Linked DNA regions of Homo sapiens. The protein of the gene in region 1 interacts with the protein of each later gene in a pairwise test. Each region holds a gene or a part of one and is shown on either strand. Other genes may lie near its edges.

Region 1 (9,449 bases):
GGTGGCTCATGCCTATAATCCCAGCACTTCTGGGAGGCCAAGGCCGGCAGATCACTTAAGGTCAGGAGTTTGAGACCAGCCTGGCCAATATCATGAAACCCTGTCTCTATTAAAAATACAAAAATTAGGCTAGGTGCGGTGGCTCACGCCTGTAGTCCCAGCATTTTGAGAGGCCGAGGCAGGCAGAGCACGAGGTCAAGAAATCAAGACCATCCTGGCTAACACGGTGAAACCCCATCTCTACTAAAAATACAAAAATTAGCTGGGCGTGGTGCCACGCGCCTGTAGTCCCAGCTACTCGGGAGGCTGAGGCAGGAAAATCGCTTGAACCCGGGAGGTGGAGGTTGCAATGAGCTGAGATCGCACCACTGCACTCCAGCCTGGGCAACGGAGTGAGACTCGGTCTCAAAAAAAAAAAACCCCAAAAAAACAACAAGAAGAAAAAATTAGCTGGGCATGGTTGCGCACACCTGTAGTCCCAGCTACTTGGGGGGCTGAGGCAGGAGAATCGCTTAAACCAGGAGATGGAGGTTGAAGTGAGCCAAGGTTACACCACTGCACTCCAGCCTGGGTGACAGAGCGAGACCCTGTCTCAAAAAAAACAAAAACAAAGACAAAAAACAGAAAAAACGTATTATCTGAATAGCTTGTTAAGTTGTTTCACCTTTCTGGGCCCCAGTTTTCTATAAAATGGGAATTAGTGAAATAATACATATAAGAGGCCCCAAACACAGTAAGCTCTCAGCAAAGCATAGCTATTAGCAGAATTTAAGAAAGTAAACGCTCAGTTAGGACTGTATGTTTAATAATTTAAAAAGTTTCGTTATATCTTCTTGCTAGTAAAAGGACTCAGGTATTAACAAGCATAGTTTTCTTATTTCTAAACCATATGACTTATGGAATTTTAGGGTTATAAGGCCTGTTGAAGAGTCATCTAGGGAAGAGATTCCAGGGCCTACCCAGCCCTAATGAATCAAAATCTCTGGAGGATGAAGCCTAGGAATGTATCTTTTTCAAAAAATCTCATTTGATTCTGAAGACGACCCAAGTTTGGAAACCACTGAGGTGGTACATTTCTGGGCATGGGTGTGCTGAGCAAAACCATGGTTATGCCAAGAACTGTCCATTCTTGGAGGGTTATTGGGGTGGGGTACTAAAGGAGAGGTTACACGTGAGATTGTTTGTGATGCTTTGTAAATTGCAAAGCACTACAAATGGAGGGTACTGTTATGCAAAGGAGAATAATCATGAACTGTTGGTGCTGGAGATTTTAGAAAATTGATGCTCAGAGTGGTTAATGTAGCTTGTTTCAAAGTTAGGCAGCAAAGCAGGCAAAATACATATGGTGTTATATAAGTGCCAAATGGGTGTCAGAGACACAAAATGTCATGAGAACTTGGGATGGGGGCTACTGTGGGCTGGGAATGTTACAAAAGACTTCTTGGGGAGATGCAAATGAGGAACTGGTCTTGAAGGATGATTAAGATTCATATTAGTAATACAGAGGATGGGGGAACTGAGCGAAGACATAGAGAGAAGAACGCACCAGGCAGGTTTGCGAAGGTGTTAGACCTGGTGGTAGGCTGGAGCACAAAATTCATGTGGAGGAGTGGTAGGGGAGAGAACTTGTGGAGGGCCCTAAATTCTAAACTAGGGAGTGGAGACTATCTTGGTAAGCAGAAGGGATCCAAAGAAGGTTTTTGAATAGTACATAAGTAGGTGGAAAGTGAGAGCATAAAAGCAGGGCCCTTGAATCCAAAGGGTCCATTGAGACAGGCTAAAAGCGGGAGGCCACTGTGGTGTTCTAGGCATGAGGCCATAAGGTCTGAAAAGTGGGAATGAAGAAAGCCAGACGGTGTAAGTGCCACAGGAGCAATGGACAGTTCTTGGAATATTTATGGGGATCAAAGGAGAAAGAGGAGGCAACCACCGTGAGCCTGAGGAACTGGAATTATGATGACACCATTGACAGAAGTGGGAGGCCAGGCTGGAGGAAAAAAAGGTTGGTTTGAGACAGATGGTGGCACTGTTAACAGTGCTCTGTAGGGAAACTTTGGACACAACTCACCTTCATGTCCTCAAAGTTTGTTATCCCCATCTGAGGGAGGTTTGAGCAGTTGACGTGAATGAGTTTTCGGCCACTGATGAAGTTTGTGATAAAACACTCCTGTCAATACAACAAGGACATCACTTAAAAAATGTACTGCAAATAGAAGGAAGAAAGGGAGGGAAGGGGGAGGAAGGGAAGAAGTCGTGTTTGTTCTACCCTGAGAAAAAAATATTATTTTGTTTTTTCTTTTTTAGAGACAGGGTCTCACTCTGTCATCCAGGCGGGAGTGCAGTGCTGCAGTCATAGATCACTGCAGCCTCGAACTCCTGGACTCAAGCAGTCCTCCTGCCCCAGCCTCCTGAGTAGCTTAAATTTACTTTCTATCCCAATAACGGCACAATTTTTCCATGTAAGCTCTTTATTAAATTTTACACTGCTCTTTAACTGTTTTTTTGGGCATGGTACAACCAGTGCTTCTTCATGTCTCAATTACATTTGTAAGTATAGTAGGTACAAAAGGTTTCAGATCTTGTATTGTTTTGTGGTAGCCTTAAACCTAGTTGGCATCAGTGAAACAAGAGGTTTACACTGACTTTTTACTAAAACTAGTTTTGGTTAACTGGCTAACTTGAATTAATACACTTAAGTGCTCATGATACAGGTGACATATTTGGGGCAGACACTTTAAAAAGTAATAGCACAAGTTCAAAGCAAGGGAGCTGCCACTAAAATAACTTGACAAAGTACCAAAAAGCCTACCTTGAACAAAGTCTACTTAAAAATACAGTTTTCTATGAAAGGAGGTCTAAGGCCGGGCACGGTGGCTCACGCCTGTAATCCCAGCACTTTGGGAGGCTGAGGCTGGCGGATCACGAGGTCAGGAGATGGAGACCATCCTGGCTAACACAGTGAAACCCCGTCTCTACTAAAAATACAAAAAATTAGCCGCGCATGGTGGCGGGCGCCTGTAGTCCCAGTCCCAGCTACTCAGGAGGTTGAGGCAGGAGAATGGCGTGAACCTGGGGAAGGTGGAGCTTGCAGTGAGCCGAGATCGTGCCACTGCACTCCAACCTTGGCAAGAGCGAGATTGTGTCTCAAAAAAAAAAAAAGAAAGGAGGTCTATATACTCTTCTTGGTCTTTTATTCAAGGATTGCAGAGAAGTGTAATCACTGGAAGAGGAAAAACAAACCGATGTGACCCTCCCTTCCTCTCCCAAAATACAAATATACATCAGTGGCAAGGCCAAAATTAAAATCCAAGTTACCTCTACCACAGTCTAGGACTTTTTGATACTCCTTCCGGTAAAGAGGTAAGAGCTCAGGCCAAGTTAGAAGGAATAAGAAGTAGACGGATGACAGCATGTGATTTCAAAACATCTTATTTTTGTATACCTTGTATTGAGGGAAGCCTAGCTGGCTAATCCACTCTGCAACTTCCTCTGGATCCCAATTAAGATGCTCAAATTGTAACTCAGTCCCTTTTTCTGGCTGGGTTTCGTCATCTTCAGAGACCCGTTCCTTCAACTCTTGGGACAAATCTACAACTTCCTTTTCATGAACGAACTCACTTAATTCTGTCTGAGACTCTGAGGGATCTGAGTATGAGCATTCTTCACTGACATTAAGCAATTTTTGGAGTGGTTGCAAAAACTCATAATGTGTACCAATTGATTCTTCACTTTCTCTGAGAGATCCTAATGCGTAATATTCTTTTCTAAATTTGTCACTTAGTGACAACTTTCCTCTTTTAGGCTCACGGTGCTCTAGCTCATCGTTTCCTACAGAATACTTAGACTTTATTGGTTCTGGCCTGTCTTCCTTGGAAAATTCTACATGTGTCTCCCTTGGTTTGGTTTCATCTGGTAACTCTAGAATTTTCTCAGTTGGCTTTGTTTGTGTTTTCTCTTCAACTTGTGGGTTGATCTCCTGTGGTAGCACTGGACCAGTCTCCTCTGGTGGCTGTGGATTTTTTTTCTCATTTGACTTTCTTATCTCTTCTGGACTTTCTGGTTTCATCATTTCTGATTGTTCTAGAATTGTTTCCTCATTTGTTTTTCTTGATTCTTCCTCAGGAAACTCTAATTTGATCTCTTCTAGTGGCTCAGGAACGTTCTCATCAGTAGACTTTCTTGGCTTGTGGTCTGGAAAGTCTGGTTTAGTCCGCTCAGGTAGTTCTGTCCCTTTCTCCTCAGTTGCCTTTCTTTGCATCTCCTCTGGAACCTCTGGTTGAGTCTCTTCTGGAGGCTCTAGACCTGCCTCCTCACTAGACTTTCTTGGTTCCTTCTCCAGAAATTCCAGTCTAGCCTGCTCGGGTGGCTCTGTCCTTTTCTTCTCAGTTGACTCTCTTTGTGTCTCCTCTGGAGTCTCTGGTTTGGTCATCTTTGGTGGCTGAAGATCTGTCTCTTCAAGTGATTCTCCTAGTTTCTCACTTGGAAAATCTTGTTTGGTCTGCTCTGGAGGCTCTAGACCTGTCTCTTCATGTTGCACTCTAAGTGATTCCTCTGGAACCCCCGGTTCAGTCTCCTCCTCTAGTAATTCTAAATTTCTCTCTCTGACTGTGGCCCCCGAAACCTCAGACATGGTTTCCGTTGGTGGCACTGGATCTGGATCTGTTTCCATAGCTGACTCTAGGAACACATCCTCTGTAACATTTGGTTTAGCCTCCTCTGGTGGCTCTAGGTCTGACTCTTTATGCGTTTCATCCATAGGGGCCTCCAAATCTTTGAAAAACTCTCCCATCTCTCTGGATGTTTCCGACTTTACCTCTTGGTGTATCCCTGGTTCAGTTTCGCTTGGTACGTCTCTCTTGGACTCCTTGGCAATTCCTTCCTGGGACGTCCCGCCAGGTTTCAGCTGCACGTTCTTAGCACTGTCTGGCTCCCCCTCTTTGAAGTCCTCTTCCTCGGTCTCTGGCTGTGGCTCTTGGTAAATCTCTGCTGGTAGCTTCGAGTCTGCCTTTGCCATGGTGTCTGGTTCGGCATTTTCATACAATTTATGAAGTCCAGGCAGTTCAGGCCTCTCAGGCTCCAGCTCTCCATCTTCATCTGGGCCGGAATCATAATCCTCCGGGACTTCAGCCATTTGCAGCTTAGCAGACGCGCCGCGGCTTCCTAGCAACCCCAACTTCCGATAGCGTCTCTATGGATACCACGATTTCCGGCAGTGTCTTCCTGACTCTTCCCCAGGTTTTGTTTGTTCTTTCAAGCCCTGACTTTAAAAATCGTCTGTCACAAGCACGCAGTAACCCTCCCTGCGGCCTCATCGCCAGCCTCAGCGGGCCAGAGCTCCTGTGGCCGCCCCTGGGTCAGCTAGCTTTTCAAGCGGCCGCCGCGCCGCTTCTTCCGGCCTGCAGGCTGCGCTCGGCTGTGCTCGGCGCTCGCTCGGCCTTCGGCTGTTTCCGGAGCCACTCGCGGCTGGCAGCGGAGAGCTCCGTGCGCGGGCTGCAGATGTCTGACCTGCAGGCGGCTGAGGGGCCGGGCTCCTGGAGCCCCACAGCCCGCCCAGGGTCGGCTGGCGGCGTCGGGGACTGCCAGGGAGTGGAGGGGAGCCAGGCGGCCGCCTCAGGTACGCAAGGCCGGGGCGCTGGCGGGTGGGTGCCGCCCGGCCTCAGGGCCCCGCACCACGGCGCGAGCCTCCGCCGCGCTCTGTCCTGGGCTTCCCCGCGGAGCGGACCCACCTCGGCAGCCCCTTCGCGCGCGGGGCCCCTTCCCCGCCGCTGCCACCACCCGGGCCCTGGGCTCGAGGTTATTTTCTACTCACTCCTGTTTCGAAATGCCTTGATTCCTGCCCCGCTTCCTTTCTGAGATCTGCCCAAATGGTAGTGACAGGGTGGCTCTGCCCCTGGCGCCTCTTCAGCTTCAGTTTCAGCTTCAGCCGGGGTTCGGGTCCCACCTCCGTCTGCTAATCACATCTAGACTGCCGACCCGAACCCTACTGGCCTCGCCGCCCCCTGCTTCTGGCTCCCCACCCTATCCCCATCTCAGTCCCCTGCCCCAGCCTTACCACGCGCCTCTCGGCCCCCACCCGGGTTGGCAGCCTTGCCTTCCTCTGCCAGAAGCCCACTGCGCCCTAGCCTTCCTGCACATAGGCCCCCTGGCCTTGCTGCCATCCTCTCCATCGCTTAGAGTGGGAAAAATGAAAAGCAGAGTTGAAATAGGTAGTGTCTGGGGTCTTTTGCTTGAACACAGTAGCCAAAGCAAGAGCAGGAATTAAAAATTTGGCCTACCTCCCTCATTCTCAAGACCCTCATCCTCTTCTTGTCCAGGACGACGTCTCCATTTCTACTAACGCGAGTTCCTCCGTGTGTATTATTTCAGTGTCCAAAGACAAAAGAGTCCATCCATCACACTTTCTTCTTTCAGCCTCCTGAACACCACACACGATGCAACTGAAAGGATGCTCTTTTGAAATACGAAAGGGTAGAGGGGAGAGAACTTGTCTTATTTAAGTAGCAAATATAAATTAATTTTCTAGGTCTGAAATTAAAATAGACACCATAAAGTATAATGGTTGAGGCACTACTGTGGAGCCAGGGTGCCTGGATTGGAGTCTGAAACGTCAGTTTCCTCATCTGTAAAATGTGATTACTAAAAATATCTGCCTCATAGGATTATTGTGAGGATTACTTGAGCTGCTTTGTCTAAGGCATTTGGGGTATAGTCCATGGTACACACTATACTCGTCTCAACCATTGTGACAGTAAGGTCTCTTTTTGTTCAGTTGAACTTCCTGTGCCGCCAGAGGTGTTCTTGGATGTATGGCTTCCAACATGGTGCCTTTTTCTGTCTTCTACTCTGATCCCAAGTATCTTCCCTCTCATAATGCTGCCTTATTCAAACACACACACAACTCACCCAGCTCTTTCCCATGATTTTATATTCTTTTACTTTAAAACACCTGACAAATTTTGCCTTTTTTTCTTACGAACTCTGCTTTGTATTAAATTAAAAATCGTTGGCATATATTTAACATAGCAGTAGAAATTCTAAGCATAATGTCTAAAAGACTAAGCAAGTAAACACAGAAAGGTAAGTCTTATAACACTTGTCCCTTGCATGCGCCAGTATTTACAAATTAAGCATGTTTTTACTTCCCCTTTAGGTTCTCATGTGTTTATGGCAAACGTACCCACGCGTTTTAGATAGATGAGTGTGTTTTTTTTTCCCCCTGACATCTAATTCATTCCTGCATTCACTTCCTCCCAGGACATTGGTAGAGATGCTTACTTTCCTTCCTCTTACCCTCAGAATGCAGGGTGATAATTTTTTTTTTTAATGTCATGTAGGGGTTTATTATAGTAGCCCAGAGCAAGCTCTTCCTCTTGAGGTAGGATTTGTTGCTAATAAAATAATAGTAATGATAACCTACAGATATTGAATGCTTATTCTGTGCCAGAGGTGGAAAAAAATTTATATTTTCTGATTTAGTCATGTCAACAATCATTTTCTTCCCATTTTACAGAGGAACAAACTACAGCTGAGAAAGGTTAACTTACCTGTTCAAGTTAGCGCAAGTTTTTACTGTCTGGATGAAATTGTCATCTTGTTATGATGAAGTCTATAATTGTTTGTTTTTATTGGCCATGAATCAAGTATTGGTACTCGCAGACAGGTTATGGTCTCTGTCCTCAAGGTGTTTTCAGTTTGATGAGATGAGAGATCCATTTCAGGGAGAAACAATTAACAATTCAAAACATTATATAATTGGGCGTCTTTTATTACAATTCTTTATCTACTAAGAAACCTGCTTGGAGTTAGGAACGGAATCTCTCTTGCTTGTTTATTTATCTAGAGCCCTTGATGTTGTGTTTTAGAGGTTTCGCAAATATTTGCTGAGTTTGATGGTGAGAGAAAGTCTGAATGCAGAGATCTGGATGAGCATCTAATGAATGTGAAGAATTAGGGTTGAGATAACCAAGAATGTTCCTTGGGTTAGAGCAATGGTTTTCAACCAGGTACGATTTTGTATCCCCAGGGCATGGCAATGTTTGGAAACATTTTTGCTCGTCACAACTGGTGGCAGCTATTGCTGACATCTAGTGAGGATAGGCTAGGGATGTTTGCTAAACATCCTGCAAGGCACAGGGCAATCCCCATAACAAGGAGGTATCTGGCTCCAGATGTCAGTGGTGCTGCTTTTGGGAACGCTGTGTTAGAGTTAAGCTGGGCTTCCAAAGCAGTGTGGAAATACTATATTTGGCCTGGACCAGAGGCTTGGGCGTAAACCCCAAAAAACTGCTTTAAACTTGGAATTCGTTTGATTGGATCCTTCTGCCATCTTCCTCTAGAAAATGATACAATGAGTAAGCAATAGAGCTCTAAGAAAGAATGAAATTTAATGAGATTTCTCTCACCCTTTCAGAGAGAAAACAGCAGTAAGAAATGGAATTGGATATTCAGGTGTTCTGTTAGTCCATTTGGAATACCTGAGACTGAGTAATTTATAAGAAAAGAGTTTTAATTGGCTCATGGTATTGCAGGGTGTACAGGAAGTGTGGTGTTGGTATCTGTTTCTGGTGAGGGCCTCAAGAAGCTTAGAATCATACTGAAAGGGGGAGCAGGTATGTCACATGGCGAGAGTTGGGAGTGAGAGAGAGAGAGACGGGAGGAGGTCCCAGACTCTTTTAAACAACCATATCTCAGGTGAACTAACTGAGTGAGAACTCACTTATCATCAAGAGGATGATGCCAAATCATTCATGAGGGATTCATCTCCACGATCCAGTCACCTCCCACCAGACCTCACCTCTAACATTGGAAATCACATTTCAGCGTGAGATTTGGAGGGAACAAACATCCAAGCCATATCAGGTATTGTTGAGTTAAGGGTTTTGGTTTTTTGGTGTATCTTATTCCTTCAAAGCAGGAATGTGTCATTATCCAGAATAACCATAACTTGTTTTTTAAAAGTGTTCTCTGCAGAGAATACCTATTGAGTGTCTTCATGTTTGTTAGCTGAGGTTTTGGTGAAAAGGAAGGAAAGGATTTATGTTCTTATGAACTAAGCTCTCCAGTGGTCATGGTGTTCTTATTGTTTTATGCATTGTAATTGTTTTTAATAGTCTTTTATTTGAGGCACCTGGGTTCTTCAGTTCCCCAGAGGAGAGATAAATCATTCTTTAATTATGAAACTATCTGAGGCATACTTGTTGCATCACTTAAAGGCAGGTTTTTTTGTTTTTGTTTTTGTTTTTTTTTTAAGTTTAAAGGAAAATAAAACTCTATTGTGATCCTGAAGTCAGCAGTAGAACTTAGTTTGGTGTGTATGTCCCCCAGAGCTATCAATACATTTAGATGTTGAGGATGGAAACAGGTCAGGTAAACTTGTTCATGGTTCTAAGGTAGAAGTTAGAATATTACAATAAGTCTTTTTGCAGTGATGAAAATATTTCATATCTGTC
Region 2 (8,829 bases), on another chromosome or scaffold:
CGATAGAGAAGAATCAAGGATGATTCATAGGTTTGGGGCCTGAGTGGTTGGTACCATAATGCTGGGACCATTCACTGAGATGAGAAGACTTGTAGAAGGGCGGGTTGGTAGGGGTGGAGAATTAGAATCAGAAGCCTCTTTTTGGACATAGTAAGTGTGTGATACCTGTTGTGAAATCTACATGATTAGATATATATCAAGTAAACAGCTGAATATACAAATCGAGCTTAGGACAATGGTCAAACCTGCCAAACCAGCAAAGAACAAGGTAAGTAGCTAGCAAGGTAGGAGGAAAGGGAAGAAAGAGGAGTATTTCAGCCAGGGAAGCCTCGTTGTATTGATTGTTGCCAAGAGGTTGAGGAAGATGATGACAGAAAAATGTCCGTGTGATTTGGCAATATGAAATTCATTGAATCTACATAGAATCTGTTCTTGAAAGAAATGAGGAGAGATCAGAAAAGTTTGAACATTCTAGCAAAGGAGAGTGATCCACATAGCCCCTAGTAGACATGCACTGTCAATATTGGACATAGTTCCATTAATCCTTTTTTTTTTTTTTGAGACAGGGTCTTGCTCTTGTCACCCAGGCTGGAGTGCAGTGGCATGATCTCAGCTCACTGCATCCTCCACCTCCCAGGTTCAAGCAATTCTTGTGCCTCTGCCACCTGGGTAGCTGGGATTACAGGTCCCATGACCACACCCAGCTAATTTTTGTATTTTTTTTTTTATAGGGGTGGGGTTTCTCCATGTTAGCCAGGCTGGTCTCAAACTCCTGGCCTCATGTGATCCGCCTGCCTCAGCCTTCCAAAGTGCTGGGATTACAGGTGTAAGCCACCTCACCCCGTCCCTTTTTAATCCTTTCTGTGTAGTTGTGTTCATAACCATACTCCATTTTACTTGCTTTTTTCCATCAATATTATAAGCAATTTTTCATGTTATTAAAACAATCCTTATAATCACCATTAAAAGATTTTTTCTGATTATAAGAATATACAATTGCTATAGAAAATTTGGAAATCTGGAGAATTATTAATATGAGGTAGAAACAATTCTTTGGCCCAGAAGCAATACTGTTAATATTTTATTCACTGATTCAACAACTATTTGAGGGTCTGCTTTTGGGTAGAGAAAGAATGTTTTGGGGGTGTTTGTTTTAGAGGTGGGGTCTTGCTCTGTTGCCGAGGATGGAGTACAGGAGCTATTCACAGGTGCAATCATAGCACACTACAGCCTTGAACTCCTGGGCTCAAGCATCCCCCCTGCCTCAGCCTCCCATGTAGCTGGGACTCCACAGAGGAATGTTTTTTAAAGACCACAGTGTGAAAAACTGATTGTAGTTTATTGGTCACACCTTCTTTAGAAGAAAGCTTATTATTATAAATAACATATACCTACACATTTCTCATATAATGTATACAACATTTTCTGACTTGCTTCTCCCTCCCCTCACTTAATATGTCACAGACATTTTTCCTGTCTCACTAAATACTGTGTCAGTTCGAGTGTTTTAGTTTCTGTGGGGCTTTTGTATTTAGAAAGGATTGTTGGGCAATTTGGATTTAAAATTAATATACTATTTATTATAGTTGCAAATTTAAAAACCTAATTGTTTTTCATTCTTGAGGTTCAATTTATAAATAGGATAAAAAGATTAGTAAATTGAATTACTTTTTGCATAAAAATAAGGAACAATCATTTTCTCTTGTTCTTTGATGAATGTTCGGTAAACTCTAATGGAAAGGATTACATTGTCCTAAACAGTAATACCCATTTGCAAATTTAGTTAATACATCTCTTTAAGCAGTTTAGTCACATTTATAAATTGAACATATTTGATATTTGAGTTTTTTCAATTCTTCAAATCCCCAGTGCATAGGCAGATTAACCTATCAAGCAAAATGTTCCTAAGCACTTAAATGACTCTTGTTTACTCAAGCCCAAAACTTCAGTGTCATCCCCCAGTCTAATTCTCTAATGTCCAGTCTGTTAGCAAGTTCATCCTGCTTTCGTTTCTCCATATATCCCACATCTCATCACTGCCTCTATGACTGTTACCCTAGTCCAAGGCACAATTATCTCTTGCCTGGACATCTACAGTCACCTCCCAACTGGTTTGATAACATTCTTGCAGTGCACTAGCGTTCCCAACATGCTAAGTGATGAGAGTGCATATTTTTAAATGTAAATCAGACACATCAAGTCTCTGCTCAGAATGACCCAGTGGCTTCCCATCACAGTGAGAGTAAAAACCCCAACTCCTTCCATGCTCTGCGAGGCGTTATGTGATCACAGTCTGCATGCACTGTCCTAGTCACAGCCCTGTTGACTCTGACTTGGCCACATTGGCCTTCTTGCTTTTCCTTGAACAGTGAACATACTCCCAACTCAGTCTCTGCACTAGCTGTTTCCCCAGATTTGGCATGGCTCACACACCTTCACTTTATTCAAGTGCCCATCTGGTGGCTCTTCAGGTGGTCTAGTCTATAAGAGCCCTGTTCCCTCTCATACTCCATACTCTTCCCCTGCTCTGGTTTTTTCCTTGATGGCACTTAACTACCTCTGCTTAACATTTTTTTTATATTATTTAATTTATTGTATGTTTCCCCAAATACCATGTTGGAACAGTGCCTACCACATAGTATTTCTGCAATAGATTTTTGTTGAATGAATGGATGTACATATACATTTTACTTGAAACAAACATTATTTTTTGGGTATGATAATCAGTTTTCTTCACTTTAGCTGATCCAAAAATGGCATCTTCTGCTACTCCTTTATAGCTTTCTAATGAATTTGAAACTAGATTTACCTCTGAATTACATTGCAATTTCAACCTGTCCTTTTTAGTACTTTGACCCACTGAATCATTTGTTACAGTTTTGTGGGGTTTTTGGGGCAGGGGCGGAGGGGTGTTTTTTTTTTTTGACACAAGGTCTTGCTCTGTCACCTAGGCCAAGTGTAGTGCCGTGATCATAACTCACTGCAACCTCAAAATCCTGGGCTCAAGCTATCCTTCTGCCTCAGCTTCCTGAGTAGCTGGGAGTATAGGTGCATGCCACCACACCCAGCTAATGTTTTTGTTTTTGAGAGAGAAGGTGTCAAACTCCTGGCCTCAAGTGATCCTCCAACCTTGGCCTCCCAAAGCACTGGGATTATATGTGACAGCCACTGTGCCTAGCCTGTTACAGTCTTCTAAAATATTATTTCTCTAAATAAATTGCTAGCTGTCAATGGCAGATAATATTTTCTTCAAAGTAAGTCCTTCCTAATGTTTATTTTCTGCTCCAGAAAAATCAGAATATTAGGAGACTGTGTTCTAAGAAACTACAAACTGCATTAATTGGGTAGTTTCTCTTATGTTACAGAATGTTACTTTTCTTTATACCCTTTCTCTGTTAAAATGTGTTCATTATAAGCAGAAGACAAGATTGTTTTGATTTTTAAAACTCAGCTTTTATTTAACACATTTCACTGAGTATTCATTGCTTCATTTAATATTGATTCTAACATTTTACAAAGATGCCTTGTTGGAAAATTCCATATGTGGAATGTGGAAATAAACTATGTATTACTCTTGGTGAATGAGGAACTGCTCAGCATGTTCATTATAGAAAATTCAAAAAATAACAAAAGAAATAAGAATAGCCTGTTATCCCACCACTTGTAGAAACCACTGCTATTAATATTTTGATACACATTTGACCTTCAGTATCTGTGGGTTCTGCATCCATGGATTAAACCAACATTAGATGGAAATTATATCAGAAAAAAGTTCACAAAGTTCCAAAAAGCAAAACTTGGATTTGCTGTGTGCCGAGTATTATGTTGAATCCACATGAATGAAGTCATATGCAGACATCATATTAGGCATTATAAGTAACCTGGAGATGATTTAAAGTATACAGGAGGTTGTGCATAAATTATATGCAAATGCTACATTTGCATATCCACAAATGATCATTTGTGGATTTTGGCATCCACAGGGTGTCCTGGAATCAATCCCCCATAGACACTAGGGACAACTGTTTATTCTTATCTCCTCGATTTCTATGCATATATATTCTTTTGTTTTTGTTATTAATGTAATTGAGCTTTTTGAAGAAGTAGCCTGGGTTTGCAAGTTATTTTAACTTTTGGCAGCCTGGTTTTCTCACTTACTATATTTGGATAATAATATTTATCACGAGTTGTTATAAGGATCAAATAGGTTAATATTTGTAAAGTGTATAGATTAGTGCCCATGACTTATAAATGCTATCTATAAGTATTAAATAAATTAGGCAAATAACCCGCTTTTAAAACATATATGGTGAACATTTTCTCAAGTCATAAAATATTCTCTGTCTCTCTCTCTCTTCTCTTTTTTTAGAAATGGGATCCCCCGCTGTCCAGGCACGATCATGGCTTTCTGCAGCCTTGAACTCCTGGGCTCATGTGATCCCTGCCTCAGCCTCCCAAGTAGCTAGGACTACAGGTGCCTGCCACCATGCCTGGCTAATTTTTGCATTTTTTGTAGACATGGGGTCTCATGTTGCCCAGGCTGGTCTCGAACTCATGGCCTCAAGCGATCCTCCCACCTTGGCCTCCAGAAGTGCTAGGATTACAGGTGTGAGGCACCATACCTGGCCAAAATATTATCTATAGCATAAATGTTAATAATGCCTTAGTCTTCCATCATATGGATATGCCATGAGCTATTCCCTTTATTTTTGGTTTTGTTCTTTCCATTCTTTCACTGTTATAAATAAAGCTCTGATAAATATCCTTGTACATGAGTATTCATATCCTCATTTCCTTAAATGGAAATGGATCCACCAGGAGTATACATGTTTTATAAGTTTTTGATACCTGCTGCCAAATTGCCCTCTAGAAGGGCTATACCAATTTATATTCTCAGGATAAATATATTGAATAGTATATGAGTACTGATTTCTCTTTAAGTTCACTGATTCTGGGTTTTATTTTTTAAAATCTTTGCTAATTTAGCAAGTAAAAAATTATACCTTAATGTGCATTGCCTTGATTAAACTTCATTGTTTGCCACTATAATTTTTTCTTTGTTGACATCTCTTGATGTTTTTTGTCCAGTTTTCTATTGGATATTTGACTTTTTCTGATTTGTAATGATAGATGAACCTTTTTTCTGTATATTACAAATATTTTCCCCTGTTTCTTTTAGTCTTTAATCCTGTTTATAGTGTTTTAGGACATACACTTTTCAATTTTAAAAACAATTTTAATTTTTTGGGTACATAGTAGGTGTATATATTATGGGGTGAGATGTTTTGACACAGGCATGCAATATGTGATCATCACATCATGGAAAATGGGGTACCCATCCCTTCAAGCATTTGTCCTTTGTGTTACAAACAATCCAATTATACTCTTTTAGTTGTTTTAAAATGTACAATTAAGTTATTATAGACTATAGTCACTGTGTTGTGCTGTCAAATACTAGGTCTTATTCATTCTTTCTGACTATTTTTTTTTATACCCATTAACCATCCCCACCTCCCCCTAATCCCCAAACCAACCCCACTACCCTTCCCAGCCTCTGGTAATCATTCTTCTACTCTCTATCTCCATGAGTGCAATTGTTTTGAGTTTTAAGTATCACAAATAAATGAGAACATGCAATGTTTGTCTTTCTGTACCTGGCTTATTTCACTTAACGTAATGATCTCCAGTTCCATCCATGTTGTTACTAATGACAGGATGTTGTTCTTTTTTATGGCTGAATAGTACCCCATTGTATTTAAGTATCACATTTTCTTTACTCATTCATCTGTTGACAGACACTTAGGTTGCTTCCAAATTTTGGCTGTTGTGAACAATGCTGCAACAAACATCGGAGTGCAAAAGTCTCTTCGATATACTGATTTCCTTTCATTTAGGTTATACCCAGCAGCATCATTGCTGAATCATATGGTAGCTCAATTTTTAGTTTTTTGAGGAACTTCCTAACTGTTCTCTATAATGGTTGTACTAACTTACATTCCCACCAACGTGTTTGAGGGTTCCCTTTTCTCCGTATCCTCCCAGCATTTATTATTGCCTGTCTTTTGTATAAAAGCCATTTTAACTGGGATGAGATAATATCTCATTGTAGGTTTTTTTTACTGCTCCTTGTGGACCAGAGCGGTAGCCTTAATCTCAGCACTTTGGGAGGCCGAGGCGGGCAAATCACTGGAGGCCAGGAGTTCGAGACCAGCCTGGACAACATGGTGAAACCCCGTCTCTACTAAAAATAAAAAAATTAGCCCGGCATGATGGCATGCGCCTGTAATCCCAGCTACTCGGGAGGCTGAGGCAGGAGAATCACTTGAGCCCAGGAGGCAGAGGTTGCAGTGAGCCAAGATATCACCACTGCACTCCAGCCTGCGCCACAGAGCAAGACTCTGTCTCAAAAAAAAAAAAAAAAAAAAAGACCCAAGAGTCTGTTTTGCAAGTAAAACTCTCTGGTGTGGCAATCTGAAAGATATGATTTTTTTTTACCCCTTATTTAATAATAAAATAACAAGGGTTATATTTGCCTAGCAGACTATAAACATTTCCTTATTTCTTATAATTCTTTATAAACTGCCATAATGGGTATAGTTTATTATTTATTAATTCCCTGATTCTTGCATGTAGGCTTGCTAGGATAAATATTTTCAGATTTTGTGTATTGTGATAAAAATTATCTTTTCCTTTTTTGGAGCATTTTCCATTTCTCCATGAGCTCTTCACTTCCTCACTTAAGTAACTGAATAGGCATAAGCTTGGGACTATGGTTCCTTAAATATCATTTTAACCTTCCGGAGTCTTGACAGCAATTTTTTGAATAAAATTTTTCTTTAGTTAAGCTGACTCAGTGAGGTAAAAGTTAAATATTTCAGCTGTGCCGTAAGCTCACATAAAGCCCCTTGATAAGTGACAGCCTTGACTTTAACAGCTAATCCCTCCTCTGAGTGGTTAGTGGAGCCTGGCTCACCACTATCGTCTCATAAGGGCTTCAGCGCTCGTGTGCTCATATGAATGGTTACAGTTTATTGGTCCAGGTCACTTTCACTAATCCCCAGCTTCCTTTAGAGGATGTAAGACAGACACTGACCTAGCTTGTACAGCCTTCTGCATTCTTCATTGTATAAGCTGATCATGATACAATTATCTTTAGACATAAACATAGCAACTGTAATCATATTTTATCTCTATTCAGACTGGTTTTTAGTCAGTTACCTAGCTATATCTATCAATTACTGCTAGCAAATATTCTTAGGTTTACATAGCAACAAAAATTTTTTCTCATTAGCTTTAGTTTTAGTTATTCCACTGAAACATCCTCCTCTTGTCCTTTTCTCTGCAGCTAGATAATCACTTTTCCCCCCACCCCCGGGCTGCAGTTCTGTGGCTGTCTTCTCATTTTCTTTTCCCCCAATAAGGTCATCTCTGTCTTGTGAGCTCCAGGTCTTAGAGGCTGGGACAAATTCTGTCTTCCCTTCTTTCCCATGTAAACCCCTCAGCTTAGCTTCCTGCACTCTGTCCCACAAACTTTGATTCCTCCTTTCCCTGTCATTAGCAGCAGCATCGGTGGTCTCTTCCCTTTCAACTCCAGGTATCCAGCTTTTAGGTCTGATTTCTGGAACATATCCTCTTAAATTGTTAAGCACTTATGACTGAAATATTTGTGAATTGGGGGTCGATTTAACTTTTTTCTCAAGACAGGGTCTCACTATGTTGCCCAGGCTGGTCCTGAGCTTCTGGCCTCAAGTGATCCTCCCACCTCGTCCTCCCAAAGTGCTGGGATTATAGACATGAGCCACTGTGCCTGGCCCTGATTTAATTTTTTAATATAACAAGTTGCATATTCTCTAGTGTTTACACTCACATGCTTGAATTTACAATGCATCAGGCTCTTCTCAGCAGGAGCCTCATGGGTTTTAAACTAAACCTTCATGAGCCAGAGTAACCTGAGCATACTGAAAATCCAGAATCGGCCTCTAGCACCTAATAGTAATACTGTATTTTTATCAGTTCTAAAATGCATTTCCACGTCTAAAATTAGGATACATATTATAATCAGTAGTGGCCATAATTTATTTGGTAGCATCTTTTCTTTCTTAGAGGTAGATAAAATCATGGCATGTCTGAAAATGGATAGTGTCAGATTTGATAAGATACAGTAATGGGCCGGGCATGGTGGCTCATGCCTATAATCCCAGCACTTTGGGAGGCTGAAGCAGGAAGATCCCTTGAGCTCAGAAGTTTGAGATCAGCCTGGGCAGCATAGTGAGATCCTATCTCTACAAAAATCTTCTGAAAGTCAGCCAGGCATGGTGGTGGCATGCTCTTGTAGTGTTAGCTATGTAGGAGGCTGAGGTAGGAGTATCACATGAGCCCAGGAGTTCGAGGCTGCAATGAGCCATGATAGTGCTACTTCATTCCAGCCTGGGTGACAGAGTGAGACCCTGTCTCCAAAAGAAAGAAAGAAAGAAAACGAAGAAAAAAAAATACAGTAATGAGAACGGTAGCTAACATTTGTTGCGTATCTGCCACACACAAGAATTTTTCTATGTGCTTTATGTCTATTATCTCCTTTTATGTTTATACCATCCCTGAGGAGTAGGGATGTTCAGATGGAAAAAATCTAAGGCATAGAAGAATTCAGCTAGTAACTGATGGAGTTGAGGCTTGAACCCAAGCAACAAAATAGTTCCAGGGCTACGTTTTTAACCGTCCTTCCACTATGCTGTACTGCCTCTTCATAACTGTTTGGGTTTTTTCCCCTCTTTAAGGCATCGTTGGCTTCACAGTATGACTGATGATCCTCCAACAACAAAACCACTTACT
Region 3 (8,829 bases), on another chromosome or scaffold:
CATCTTGGGAGTTTTGTTTAAAGACCTGTCTCTCCCACTAGCCTGGGCATCTGGAGGGCAAGGGATGTGTCCTGTATTTCCAGAACCTAGCAGAGTCCCTAAATGAATCTTGTGAATCTTTCTTTCAGTGTCCACTATAGGATTTGGCTTTGTGCTGGACATGGGATTCTTTGAGACAATAAAGCTTCTCCTTTGGGTTGTACTCATAGATTGTGTAGGCGTTGGTCTTCTGATAGCAACTTTAATGTGGTAAGTACCATAACTTTGGTTTTTCAGATACTGCTGTAGCATCTCCATTTGTTTGCTTCAGAGGTACAATAGCAGCAGATGGAAATTGAAACCCAGGTAGAGTTACTAAATGATCAATTTTGACTGCCAAGATTATTACAATTTTCCCTCCTGTGTTGCCACCTATATCAGAAAATACTATAAAGGCTGGTTTATAATATTGTCAAATGTAGCAAATAATTGAAATAATTATGTTTTGAACCCAAAATATCTGAGATCGGTCTCAATTTAGAAAGTTTAGTTTGCCAAAGTTAAGGACATGCCTGTGACACAGCCTTAGGAGGTCCTGATGACATGTGCCCAAGGTGGTCGGGGCACAGCTTGCTCTTATACATTTTAGGGAGACTTGAGACATCAGTCAATATGTGTAAAATGTACATTGTTTTAATCCAGAAAGTGGGGAAAGGCAGGTTACAGTTAGATAAGAGACAAATGGTTGCATTCTTTTGAGTCTTTGATCTGCCTTTCACTGAATACACAATTTACTTGTGAGAGGCAGGTACAGGAATAGTCATTTATGCCTTAATCTGGCTCAGTGAGTCTGCATTTTTACATAAACAATGGGGCAGAGGAAGCAATCAGATAAACACTTGTCTCAGGTGAGTAGAAGGAGGACTTTCTGTCCCACACCTGTAAAGATAAGCTATCTTAGGAATAAAATAGGAGGCAAGTTTGCCTGACACAGTTACCAGCTTGACTTTTCCCTTTGGCTTAGTGATTTTGGGGTCCCGAGATTTATTTTCTGCATACTAACAAAATGCCTGGTTTTGCAAAAATATTACAGATTTAGCCAGTTCTGCTTAAGTTGTCTGGATGATAGCATGGTTTTCTGCATTTGTCAATAGAGACCACTTCTTGATATTCATTGTGTTTAAATCCATTTAGATCTAAAGGGTTATTTTGTGGAGTCTTACTTTGAATCTTTGCATTAAATGAAGTATACTTGAAAAAGAAGGATTTTTTTTTTAAACTTCTCATGCCTTCCTACTGAGAATAAAATTCTCTCTCTTTCTCTCATACACACACACCCTCCGCCCCCCCCGCCCCCCCACCGCCACACACACACACGGGCTTTATCAGAAGGGTTCTCAGTCTGACTTTGGTTGATTTAGCAACAGCAGTGTACTGAGGATAAATCTGGTGTTTGGTAAAGTCCTCCTGTGTGGTTGGCATGCTGGATGAAGGGCAGGGGATGTGGCTAGCGATCTCAGTAGAGGACCAGTGGTTGGGTAGACATGGTGGTCATTGTGGAGAACATTTTAGTTGCAGAGAGACCTGGGTTCAAATGCCAACTTAGTTATCTGTGAAACTCTTAGTCCCAGTCTCTTCTTTTACAAAATCTAGTTAATTACCTATTCTGTCCAATTTTTGAGATAATTATGTTATGAAAATTACCTGACACAGTTAAGTGTTCAATATTTGGTAGTTACTAATATTTTAAGCAAAACTCTGCAACTATAACTTCTGATACCAGCCTTTTTTTTTTTTTCTTTGAGACGAAGTCCCACTCTGTCACCCAGGCTGGAGTGCAATGGTGTGATCTCAGCTCACTGCAACCTCCGCCTCCCGGGTTCAAGCGAATCTCCTGCCTCAGCCTTCTGAGTAGCTGGGATTACAGGCACACACCACCACACTTGGCTAATTTTCATACTTTTAGTAGAGACAGGGTTTTGCCATTTGGCCAGGCTGGTCTCAAACTCCTGACCTCAGGTGATCCTCCCGCCTCAGCCTCCCAAAGTGCTGGGATTACAGGCGTGAGCCACCGCGCCCAGCCAATACCACCCTTTTACAGGCATAGTTCAGATATGCTAGTTCCATTCCAGATACTGCAGTAAAGCAAATATCACAATAAACTGAGTCACACAGATGTGTTGGTTCCCAGTGCATATTAAAATCATATTTACACTGTACTGTAGTCTTTTAAGTGTACAATAGCACTATGGCTCTAAAAAACAATGTACAGACTAATTTAAAATGCTTTATTGCTTAAAAATGCTGACACAGAGACATGAAGTGGGCATATGCTGCTGGAAAAATGGCACAGGCAGACTTGCTGGACACAGTTGCCACAAACCTTCAATACGTAAAAATTTAAAAACTACAGTTTCTGTGAAGCGCAGTACAGTGCAGTGTGGTAAAATGACATATGCCTGTATTTTCCTTTGTAACTTCTGACTAGTACAGCAGAGCTTTTGTATGTGCTAGTTAGCCAATAAATGCTGTCCACTGTTAATATAAAATTCTAAAATCTGGCCTAGAATTAATACTAATGTAAGTCACGTATTCATTACCAAGAAATTCATGAAAAACAAATGGTGTGTTTTAAAATTTCAATAAATAAGACTTTCAAAGGAATAGTTTCATTCATAACAAGCATTCTGCCCTGAATGCAGTAATTCTGGAGGCCACTGTCTTAGTCTGTTCTCAATGCTGCTATAAAGAAATATCTGAGACTGGGTAATTTATAAAGGAAAAAGGTTTAATTGACTCACAGTTCTGCATTGCTAGGTAGGCCTCAGGAAACTTATAATCATGGCAGAAGGCAAAGGAGAAGCAGGCACCTTCCTCACAGGGTGGCGGGATGGAGTGAGTACAAGTGGGGGAAATGCCAAATGCTTATAAAACCATCAGATCTTGTGAGACTCACTGACTATCACGAGAACAGCATGGGGGAAATTACGTCCATCTGGCCCCACCCTTGACACGTGGGGATTCTGGGGATTGCTGTTCAAGATGAGATTTTGGGGACACAGCCAAACAATATCAGGCACAGAAGGGGACCAAATCAGCCTGGAGTTTAGCACATTTCATGTGAGTCTGTATCATAGTTTGAATTAAATAGAAAGGGATTCAGTGTATTTTTGAGAACCTATGTTGTGTGAGGAACTAGAAAGAGAAATGACTACATGTAATGATGACCATCACAGAGGAGCTACAGAAGCCAGCATAAGGTGGTGGTTTGTGGAGATGGGGAATAGTTGACTCCTGGTGCTGGGAATTGCAAGTGCAATGGCATAGAGGTGTGAACAGCACACTAGGTCTGGGAGCATAGGGTGACACCGAGTCACTGGGGAAGAGATGTGACTAGAGAAATTGGCCTTCATGCCATTCAGGAAAAAAATTGGACTTTATCTCATAGACTGCATGTGTGGGTTGGGGGCAAAAGGAGGTGGGGAGCTTTGAGGCTTTAAAGTAAGGAAATAATGTCAAACTCACACTATCTTTTCCATGGCAGTGGAGGAGGCAAAAGTTGGAGTAGTGAGTGGGCAAGGCTGGATACACTTGCAGAGGTCTGCGTAGGAGTAGAGGAGGCCCAGATAGTATGGTGGTGATAGGAATAGAGAGGAGAGATGGATTCGAGAGCTTCCTGAGATAACAAGGTATGAGGGGGGATCAGGAAGAGGGAGTGGGTGGGAGGCTCCTTTGGGATGACCTGTAAGATTTTGGCTTAGATGACTGAGGAAGCAGCAGATGCAGATGAAGCAGCCCTTGCTGGCCTGTTGAGTTCAGGGAGCTTCCTGAAGAGTGAAAAGAAGGTCAGTAGACACTGAGGTTGATGACTCTAGACCTAGAGGCAAGAGTCTGGGCCATGATGAGCCTCTGACTGGCGTTAATATGGAGCTGGGAGGTGAAAACCACAGTGCCTTGGAGTGCTCTCGGAAGGCACATCTGTCTTTCAGAGGAAAGACTCTCACTGAGGCCAGAAGCTTGAAAAGCGCCCATTTGGGATAAGCGGGAGAATAGGGGCAGCAGAGAACGTCTACAGAAAGGGCGCTCTTGGGGAGCGAGCTACATACTGATTCCATAAAATTTGAATGGCACACATTCTTGGCTAAAAAGGAAACTGTCTTGGTAAGCTCTAGTTTGTTCAGTATTGTTTTGGCATTTTCAGATAACGAAATGCAGGGACTGTTAACATTAGTATTGTACCTCTGTTTATTTTCCATTTTTATCCCCAGTGACGGAATAGCGTATTCTTAATTGTACCCTTGAGATGAAATGAAATAATACATTAAAAAATACATTGAATTTCCAATATATGTTTATAATACAAGTTTTGTTCTTTGAAGATCTTACTTTTCTGTTACTTGGATATTTTACTTTTTATTCATCATTGAACTGAAAAACTAGTAGGCCATGTTGTAGAACAGTGACATACACTTGAATAATTGTTCTTATGGCTGGATGCGTCACTCTTCCTAACTGCTTCTTACTATTTCATCCTCCTTTTAATAGGGGGTTGACCCAGGTCTTGGGCCTTGGGCCTGTTCATTATCCACATTCATTTTTTTGGTGACATCATTCAGGCCCGTGGCTTTAAATATTAATATCATCTACACACTGATGAGTTTATATTTCCAGTTTGGACTTGTCTTCTAAACTCTAGACATTGTATACAACTTCTTACTCCATACTAGTTGGCATCTTCAACATAACAGGTCCAAATTCAAACTTCCGCACACTCCTTCCCACCTCAAAACCACTCTTCCCACAGCCAGCCCCACCTCAATTAAAGGCAGCTCCATCTTCCATTTGTTCAAGGCAGAAATCTCTCAGTCATCCTTGAGTATTTTTTTCTCATACTCCAATCCAATAATGTCAGGAGCTCTACCTTCAGAGTATCGTGTGTGCCACATCTTAGCACCTCCACTGCCACCAGCCCCTCTGCTCATCTCTTCCTTGCAGTAGCCTTCTAACTGGTCTCTGCTGCCAGTCTTGTCTCTGGAGTCTGTTCTCAGATCCGCCACCAGGGAGGCTCTGTCAAGGCATTTAAGTCAAATACTTTTCTCAGAACTCCACAGTGGCTTCTCACGTCACCAGGAATAAAAGCCAAAGATTGTAAAACGGCCACAGGCTTCGTAAGACATGGAGCCTGTGTGACTTGATGTTGGGCCCAACCCTGTTTCTTTTCTGGCTTCATTTCTTGCTCCTTTTCTTTCAGACACTGGTCTTTTCACCATTCCTCAGGCCTGCCAGGCACCATCACTATCCTTGGGTCTTTACCCAAATGTTACTTTATGACCCTCATATGTACAATTGCATCTCAAGTTTGTATTCTCCACATTTCTCTGCTGCTTTCTCTCTTTCCATAATACCATCTGACATAGGTGTATCATTGTCAGCCTTCCTTCCTAGATGGAAGGCAGGGATTTTTGTCTGTTTTGTTTACTGGTATATCTCCAGAATTTAGAATGTCTGCCGCATAGAAAGTCGTCAGTAAACATTTACAGAATTCATTTTATTATGAAAGAAATTTTAATTTTGCTCTTAGGTTCATCTCTAACAAGTATTTAGTGAAACGACAGAGCAGAGACTATGATGTGGAATGGGGCTATGCTTTTGATGTGCATCTCAATGCTTTTTATCCACTCCTGGTCATTTTGCATTTTATCCAGCTTTTTTTCATCAACCGTAAGTAGCAGTTAATTAGAGTATTATCCAAGTCTTCATTGCATGCATTGGTAAAGGGACTCATGGTCTGCGTCTCTTCTGGCAGATGTTATCCTGACAGACACATTTATTGGATATTTAGTTGGAAATACCTTATGGTTGGTTGCAGTTGGCTATTATATCTATGTAACTTTCCTGGGATACAGTGGTAAGTAATTTTTTTAAATGTTTTTGGTTGAGAACATAGCAAGAGGGGGAAAGTTGTAACAGTAGTACAAACAGCTGCTTTTATGGAACACTTACAGGCACTATCCTAAGTATTTTATGTGCATTATCTCATTTAATCTTCATGACAATTACACAGGTTTGTTTCTGTTTTCAAATGAGGAAACTGAGGCAGAGAGATTAAGCAACTTACCCATGGTCATGCAGCTAGAAAATGGCCTAGCTGGTATATAACAGATTTTATACTTTCAAGGAAACATGTTAAACCATACTGGTTATCTCCAGATGACTTGCAGGAATCCAAGACCATTCACTCCTCTTCTCCCATGCTTTCAGGTTGTGGGTTACCAGCAGGAGGGTAGAGCGAAGAAAGGTGGGGCCCAGCATCTTGTTACATAGGTCTATGAACTGAAGTTCTCTAAAGCCTTTTGAATCATAACTTTTTGCCCCATTCTTAGTTTTCATGATTACCGTATGGTTCTGTAGACAATCACAGAAGATCGGGCCCAACATTTATTGTCCTCAGGACATGTTTGCAGATTTACTGTTAAATCCTGTTGTCAGTTCATTTTTCTTAATATGAATGAGGAACATATATTATTTTTCATTTATGTTAAGAAATGATCCCATTAAATAAAGCCAAATAAAATCTAGAGACTGCGCTGTACGTTTCTTACCCCTTCCTTTCCTGTTACTGTAGATGATTAGGGCCTAACTGTAAATACAGATGGCTCTGACTATGCCTGGCTCCGGAGTTATTCCCACCCCGGTTCTCTCCCCCCTTGGCTGGTTTGTCAGGGAACACTTAACCCCTTCATTGTAATGCCTTGTTTGGGGAGTGCTTTCTCTAGTCCAGGGGAGATGTTTGTGTCATTTCTAATGAATTTTGAAAGTGTTTTGTGATGAGAACACTGCAGCACTGTGGTTTCTCTAAGTGGTTATTTGAACACTCCTGGTAACGACCTATACCACTTAGAATAGTTGGAGTACAGCTCAGTTTGTTTAAGAACTTCCTATATGAGAAATACTTAGGTCGGGATGCATGGGGTAGGGTCCCGCTAACTAAGCAGTGAGCAAGAAACATCAATATTTGGAGCCAGACTTTTATATTTAAGAGTTTCAGTTCTTTTCTGAAGCCTGGGCTACTAGTTGAGCTCACACCCTCTTAAAGTGGGGGTATAATGCTTTACACTGGAAAATCTCAAATAGCTAAAAGATGTTTTCCTATAACGCCATCCATCTCTGTACTTTAAGTTGGACTCCTAGAGGTTTCTGAGGCAGTCACAAGTTTAAATTCACCACTGTTTTCATGAATATTTGTGACATTTCTCCCTCATTGTTAACCTCTCTTGGTCCAGTGTATGATGTCCCACTCAGCCTCTGTGCTGAAATAATTCCTCTCCTAGGTTTCTTCCCAGCCCTAGACAAGGAGGAAACAGCACAGAGGGGTTGGGAAGAGTAGTCTAGTTCTGGGCATAAATAGCATCATCTTACTGATTCAAAATATGCATTCCCTTCCACCCCACATGTTGAAGTAAGCTGTCTTTCAAAATGTTCATTTATTAGTCATTTATTTTTTTTTTTTTTTAAATCAGTTTGGATTCCTTTCTTTTCCAGCATTGCCATTTTTGAAAAATACAGTAATTCTTCTGTATCCATTTGCACCTCTGATTCTGCTCTACGGGCTTTCCCTGGCACTGGGATGGAACTTCACCCATACTCTCTGTTCTTTCTATAAGTACAGAGTGAAATAAAAAGTGAGAAGAAGATTCAATCGTAACTGTGTCAACAGTATTGTGAAGTGATCATTTCTTGTAAAACTTGTAAATAAACTATCATCTTTGTAGATATCTTAAAGGTGTAAAGTTTGCAAATTTGAAGAAATATATATTAACACTGTGGTCAGGTACATTCCTTAAAACTAATTAAATGTACATTTCTATAATAAATATTTTTTAAACTAAAGCATGTGTGTTCACTCTAATATTTGCAAATGTAAGAGCTACATGTAAAATGCTAATGGCATGGGGAAAACATAAACATAAAACAATATGAATTATTTTTGAAAGAGTATCATCTAGTTGGAGAACAAGGGAATAATCATACAGCCCCATCGCTCTCCTATTGACAAAGATGCATAATCTCCATTTCTAATTAGCTGTATTTTAAATACTTACTTACATAAGCCACAAGATCCCTTCTAACCTTCGGAATCCTCTATAAACCTGTAGTGTCAGTCAAACGGGAGTCACTGTACTTCAGGCCCTAAGCATCATTAGCAGCATTTTCTACATTAAAAACTTACTTATAGCCCCTAAATATTTTAGATCAAAGAGGCCCAGGTAGCTACTCTTATTTTAGGAACTGTATAGTACATATAATAAAGTGAACATCAGCATAATATTGGTCATCACTGTCTTAACAGTAGGGCTTTTTTTTCCCCTTTCTTTAGAGACTTTACAAAACCCAATAGAGGATCCACTCCTTTTTCTAACTGAAAATGGATAACTAGTATTGTCTCAGTGTTAACAAAGTTAATAATAAAATACTACTCATTAAGTTTCACCTATTTTTATTAGAAGGAATCTTGAATTCAACATGGCTTTTTAAACTTCTTTATTTCAAATACACATGAACGGTCGTGGCACAGAGAAACAGTGATGAAGGCACAATCAACAGGACCAGTTACTAGGTTTTCAATTATAGCAGCAAATCTGAAAATAAATAATCTTCCTTTAAAAATCCAACAAGTACCTAAAATATTACTACGGATAGGAATCATTCAGCCAATGAAGACATTTTAAGGAAAATATATACAATACATTTAAGAAAAAAAAAAATCTGGTACAACCTGGCAAGGAGATTCCTCAGGCAGCTTCTCTAAGGGATGCTTCCAGAAACATCCCCTAATGCAGACAACCTTTC
Region 4 (5,648 bases), on another chromosome or scaffold:
GCCTACATCTTTGTGCTAAGAGTAATGGGAAGCCATTAGAGGGTTGGAAGCAGGTGCTCAATCAAACCTATGTTCTTAGGTGGGCATGGTGGCTCATGCCTGCAATTGCAGTCCATTGGAAGGCCAGGGTGAACAGATCACCTGAGCTCAGGAGTTTGAGACCAGCCTGGGCAAGATAGGGAAACCCTGTCTCTACAAAAAAAAAAAAAAATACAAAAATTAACGAGGCATTGGGGTACACACGGATGGTCCCAATTGCTCAGGGAGTCAAGGTGGAAGGATAGTTTGAGGCCGGGAGGTCCAAGATGTGGTGAGCCATGATTGTGCCACGGTTTGCCAGCCTTGCAACAGAGTGAGAGTATCTGAAAAAAAAAAAGAAACTATATTGTTAAAGCCCAACCTGGCCCAGTGTGGAGCATGGTCCAGGACATGGGAGGGACAGGGGCAGGGGCACAGAGAAGACCATTCTGGAAGTTCTTGCAGGAGTCTGGGCAAAACGTGAGGACAGACTGGATGGGAGTGTTTGCTGTCTGGATGTCTCTCTTTGTCCCTCTATTTTTCGCTGATCCTCTCCCAATCTGCACACAGGCCCCTCTGACACTAGTTAGCCTCGAGTGTCCCGTGTCAATCCCGGGCTCTGACTCACAGATGGAAACCACACCTGTGCTCAGCCAGAGCCAGACATGTACAAGCTTTCCCCGAGTGCCCCAATGGGCTTGGGGTTTTGAGGTCTCAGGGAAATGACCAGCTGGGAAAGTGAGAGTCCAGTGAGCGAGCAGAAGGGGTCTTGAAACTTCGCTCCCTGAGACCCTGGAAGAAGGATCATGAGGAAGGTTAAGTCAGGCACCCAGAGCCCAGGGGAGCCTCCATCGGCACCACAAAGTCACAGCCATCAGTCAGTGCTGATTGACTCAAGTCTCCAGAACACAAGATGGGGAGAGCAAGGTGGACCTGAGATATCACCTTTTCCAGCCCCCTTCTACAGCTGATGAGGAAACTGAGGCTCAGAGGGGTGAAGTCTCATGACCACAAGCAGGGTTGAACTCCTGGACACACCTCAAGCTTCCTTGACCTGTTCCTGGCATCTCCTTTCATTTTTCCTTTCTTCCCAAATTAACCTCTTTCCAACACAGCACTTCAAGTTCCCCTGGAACTTCATCGGTCCATCGGTGTCCCCTGGTCTGGAAGAGCACCGACCACTTGCCAAGGCCCCCACCACTCTGCTGCCATCACAACCACCATCACCACCATTACGAGAAAAACTTGAGACTGATGGCCCCCAAAGCTTAGAAGGAGCTGAGAGACCAAAGAATGACTCGAACAAGTCCAGCTTGGTGAGTAGGTGAGTTTATTGGGACTTACACACAGGTCAATCCTGGGCAGCGACAGGACAGCTCTAGAGATCTGTGCTTCCTCCCAATGCTAAACTGCTTTCATGCTAATCTTCTGACTGTTTACTTACCGGCTAAGAGCGATGGGACTGTTTTCATTGGTTGGTTCTCAGATACTCTCTGGGAAGTTTGGGTTCTCAGGGACACCTGCTCCTCAGCTGGGGATTGTGGCCATGGCCTACCACCTGCCTCTCAGGGTTCAAGCAGGGGACATGCACCCTTTAGTAACCTGGAGGGGACCCGTCACATGACAACCACCCCAACCACCATCATGAAGAAGCCACTGGCTGACTGTGATACACCCCCAGAAGGACAAGGGAGAGTGGATGCTGGAAAGACAGAGCGAGAGACCATCACCAGGGAAAGACTTTATTCTTGGAAGGACATCAAACCTGGGGGGGGGTCGGTAGTGGAGCTGCTGTTTCTTCTCCTGTATCCAACAGTTCTAACTCTGGTTTTCTCCATTTTCAGCTCTTTCTTTTCCTGGCCTTCTCATTGCTGGTTCCTGCAAGCTCCCCCTCTATTCTTCGCCCAATATATTCTTTAGTCCAAAGTAAACTACTTCTTCCCATTCCCCACACTCTCCAGTCCTCTCTCCTCCCTTATTGCAGGCTCCAGTGTTCCTGCCTTCTCCTTGGTGCACTTGCCATCTGCATTAACCCCTCCCTTGCTGTGCTCAGCTACACAAATGCCAAAGTCACTAACACTCAGTTCCATAAGCTTTACCTTGCCCTCCTTATCCCCCTAATAAAATGTCTGCATTTTGGCCAGGCGCGGTGGCTCACGCCTGTAATCCCAGCACTTTGGGAGGCCGAGGTGGGCAGATCACGAGGTCAGGAGATGGAGACCATCGTGGCTAACACAGTGAAACCCCGTCTCCAGTGAAAATACAAAAAAATTAGCCGGGCGTGGTGGCAGGTGCCTGTAGTCCCAGCTACTCGGGAGACTGAGGCCGGAGAATGGTGTGAACCCGGGAGGCGGAGTTTGCAGTGAGCCGAGATTGAGCCACTGCACTCCATCCTGGGCGATAGAGCGAGACTCCATCTCAAAAAAAAAAAAAAAAAAAAAAAAAAGTCTGCATTTTGTCCTGGCCTGTGCCCGGCATTTCTGCCCTGGTGGCTGCACTGCTCTGGGGTCATTGGTCTTGGCCTGGCTGCAGCATCTCATGGATCTTGGTGAGAAAGTTGAGCTTCCCCTCCAGCTCCTGAGCCCGCTTCTTCAGCTCCTCAGCTGACTCTGACTTTGCCCCCTCAAGCAAGTGCTTTGACTCATATGCAAGGCTGACCACATCCAGCAGAAGCAAGATGCCTCCAGTGGCTGCACCCACGATCATGGTTCCTCTGCTCATTGCCTGGGCGGGGCCTTCAACAACCCTCTCAACCTGTTCACCGCCTTCAGCTGAGATTCGCCCAATGACATGCGGGGGTGGGGCATACGCTCCTAACTGAGGGTTGGCTCTGGCTCGTCTGATGGCACGGATGTTCCTCCCAATCCCTTGTGTGACTTGGTACCAATTGTCAACTAAGGTAAGAACATTGGGTGTGTTCCCACCCACAAACTCCTTCATCACCTTTGCTACATTGGTGCCGCTTTGGTCCAAGTTGCGGGCTTGGGCTCGTGCCCGCAATTTGTTTACTAGTTCTACCACACTGCAGGTAATCCCAGCCACAGCAGCTGCTGCTCCCAGACCCATGCCAGTGTCCAAGAGCACAAAACTGATTCCTTCTGTGAAGGGTGCCAGACCCAGGCCGAGGAGGGTCAGGATGCCAGAGGTAGTGCCAACAGAGTTGGACACCACATTGGCAATGGTGGTGCCTCTGTGGACCTGCTCAACCTCCTCTGCAAGGGCACGGAGCTTCCTTATGTGATCCTCAAGCTCCCTTTTCAACCGAGGAAACTCTTTCAAAAACCACTGCCTGTGCTGCTGGTCTTTATCGTGGCGGTTTTTGTCCTTCATGACCATGTGACTTGCAAGCTTGTTCAGAGCTTTACGGAGCTCATCTGCCTCATCCCTGCACAAGGAAAGGTTAAAGGATTAAGAAATGCAGTTTCCCTATCTGTGAAATGAGCTCCATGCGATCTCTATCCTGTGTAAATTGCAGAGCTTTCACTATCAATCAAATAGAAACAAATTTTACAAATGGAATTAATTATCTTTCAAACTCAAACACATTTTGTTCATCATAGATATTCCTCAGTACTTATTCCATATGGAAATAAATATCTTAAAGGCACCTCAGATGCTCTTTCATGGTAGGTGTTTGATAAAGATGCCTCCTCACTCAAGGGCAGGTCAACACCGTGACTGCCAAAGTGTTTGGAGAGGGAAAACTCTGCAGATGAACAAAGAGCAGTGAGAGTGAGACAAAGAGACCTTATTACCAGGATGGCAGGAAAGTGAAGCATGAACTTTACCCAAAGAGAGGCCTTCCCTTTGTCCTCAGCTCCTGGGAAGTGATCTCCAGGCCCCTGGAATGTCCTGCCTGGTAGGAACATCTTTCTTTGCCTGGTGATTTGGCCACGGGACAGTATAGCGATGTGATGGATGATAGGGTTTGGGGCTATTTGGTGTCTTTCCTGACTTCCAGAGGACTTGGGGACTAAAGGTGTGAGATCTCAGGGAAGGGCTGGAGACTCTAGCCATGAGGGCAGCTTGTGATCCAGCCCCAGCAGATACTCTGGACACTAAGGCATGGGTTGAGAAAGAAGGACTTTCTCCTTGACCAACTCCAGCTGGGCTCTTCAGAGCTTCTTCTCCACTAGGCGCCGACCTTGGCCTTCCACACTCACCCACTGCTTTCTGGACTTGCACCACCTTGGCTCAGCAAGAATCTCCCCAAATCAGTTTAGGGAGGGTCCTCCCCGCTTGCTGTCTGAGCACCGTTTGTTATCTGATCATGCTCCTCACCCCCACCACTGGTGGTTGAGGGTCTGACCTGCCTTTGGCGAGAATCCTGTTAGGCCAGTTTAGCAGGAACCCCCCACTCTGGCGTCTCCTGTCAGTCCTGTTCCATCTCCCGCCCCCACCCTGGTGTTGGCTGTGACTCCCCCTCTGTCTTTACTATATTTGGAGCTGGGCTCAGTCTCCCTCCCCTGTAACAACAATCCTGAATAAAGGCTTCATTTCTGGTTTAATGTGATTCACAGGAATTTTTCCTTAACTGGGTGAGCTTCCCTGGTTGGCAACACCGCATGTGTTTTGTCCCACATTCACACAGGAGAACACAGCCTCCTGAGGACAATGAAGATTCACACCTGAAATCCTCCCAGACTCTGCCCTGTGTGTCTCTTCCTTAGGCTGATTTTAATCTGTGTTCTTTCCCTGTGATAAACCACAATCGTGCAATAGCAGTTTTCAGTGAGTTACGTGAGTCCTTCTAGTGAATTATAAAATCTAAGGATGATTTTAGGAATCCCCATAGATTTGCAGGTGGTGTCAAAGGTAAGGGTGCCCTCAGACATTGCAGTCTGGCTATCTCTGAGTACTTTGAATTCAAACAAAAACAAAACCTCAGAAAGACAGGAGATCACTTTGCCTGGCATCTGCTCCCTTCCAATGCCTCATGCCCTTTCACCTGGCTGAAGGCTACTGGGTGCGGCCACTGCCCCAGCTGACTGGAGTGGGAGATCTGGCTATTCATTCTGGCTCCACATGGACGCTCCAGCCACCTTACTGCCTCCTGACCTACCACCTGCACCCCCAACCTTCCAGGTCTCACTCGCAGGTGTCACCAGCCTAACTGATGCCTTAGCAGTGACAGCTTCACCTGTGTGCACAGCAAGGCCATGTGCAATTTTATGGAACCACTAGAAGACTCAAGACACTTTCAGAACCATCTATATAAATTGCTAATGCTGAAAAGACCTGAATTTGGTCAAGATGGTAGAGGAAGTGTTTTCCTCCTCGGTTGGGACTTTGTGAGTCTGCTCAGTACCCCTGAAATTACACAAATTGGCAGCAACTCATTCTACTTTGGAAATGGTCACTAAGGCATGCCATGGTAAGGAGCTTCTCTGTGTAGAAGAGAAGAAGGTCTGAAAGGGTAGTCCAGAACTCACCAGTTCCAAGGCATGGGGTGAGAGACACAGGCTACCATGACCCTGTATGCCCATGAGTGTTGGGATCATCCAGACAGGGAAGAAATATCCCTCTCCCACTCACATGTCCTCTGCAAGTTCATGACCTCCTTAAGTTTCAAGCCCTTGGTGCCTCTCTTTCCACACCCTAGTCCCAGCCCTGGTGCCCCAGCCTTCCTG

The links.
Region 2: the proteins of TMED8 (region 1) and NDUFA12 interact in binary tests that used the Homo sapiens proteins (3 or more experiments, as listed by UniProt).
Region 3: the proteins of TMED8 (region 1) and UNC50 interact in binary tests that used the Homo sapiens proteins (3 or more experiments, as listed by UniProt).
Region 4: the proteins of TMED8 (region 1) and APOL2 interact in binary tests that used the Homo sapiens proteins (3 or more experiments, as listed by UniProt).

Annotation. Positions count from the first base shown.
Region 1 is NC_000014.9:77,373,101-77,382,549, reverse strand, and holds the start of TMED8 (protein TMED8), read left to right. Parts: upstream 1-5,455; 5' UTR 5,456-5,496; coding exon 5,497-5,614; intron 5,615-8,640; exon of another isoform or gene 8,641-8,859; intron 8,860-9,449. Other genes in the region: SAMD15 (sterile alpha motif domain-containing protein 15), read right to left, coding at 2,069-2,167, 3,443-5,131.
Region 2 is NC_000012.12:94,971,566-94,980,394, reverse strand, and holds part of NDUFA12 (NADH dehydrogenase [ubiquinone] 1 alpha subcomplex subunit 12), read left to right. Parts: intron 1-8,774; coding exon 8,775-8,829. UniProt on the Homo sapiens protein: Accessory subunit of the mitochondrial membrane respiratory chain NADH dehydrogenase (Complex I), that is believed not to be involved in catalysis. Complex I functions in the transfer of electrons from NADH to the respiratory chain.
Region 3 is NC_000002.12:98,610,647-98,619,475, forward strand, and holds the end of UNC50 (protein unc-50 homolog), read left to right. Parts: intron 1-128; coding exon 129-249; intron 250-5,560; coding exon 5,561-5,700; intron 5,701-5,785; coding exon 5,786-5,887; intron 5,888-7,499; coding exon of another isoform or gene 7,500-7,521; coding exon 7,522-7,658; 3' UTR 7,659-7,869; downstream 7,870-8,829. UniProt on the Homo sapiens protein: Involved in the cell surface expression of neuronal nicotinic receptors. Binds RNA.
Region 4 is NC_000022.11:36,224,878-36,230,525, forward strand, and holds the end of APOL2 (apolipoprotein L2), read right to left. Parts: intron 3,404-5,648; coding exon 2,527-3,403; 3' UTR 1,332-2,526; downstream 1-1,331.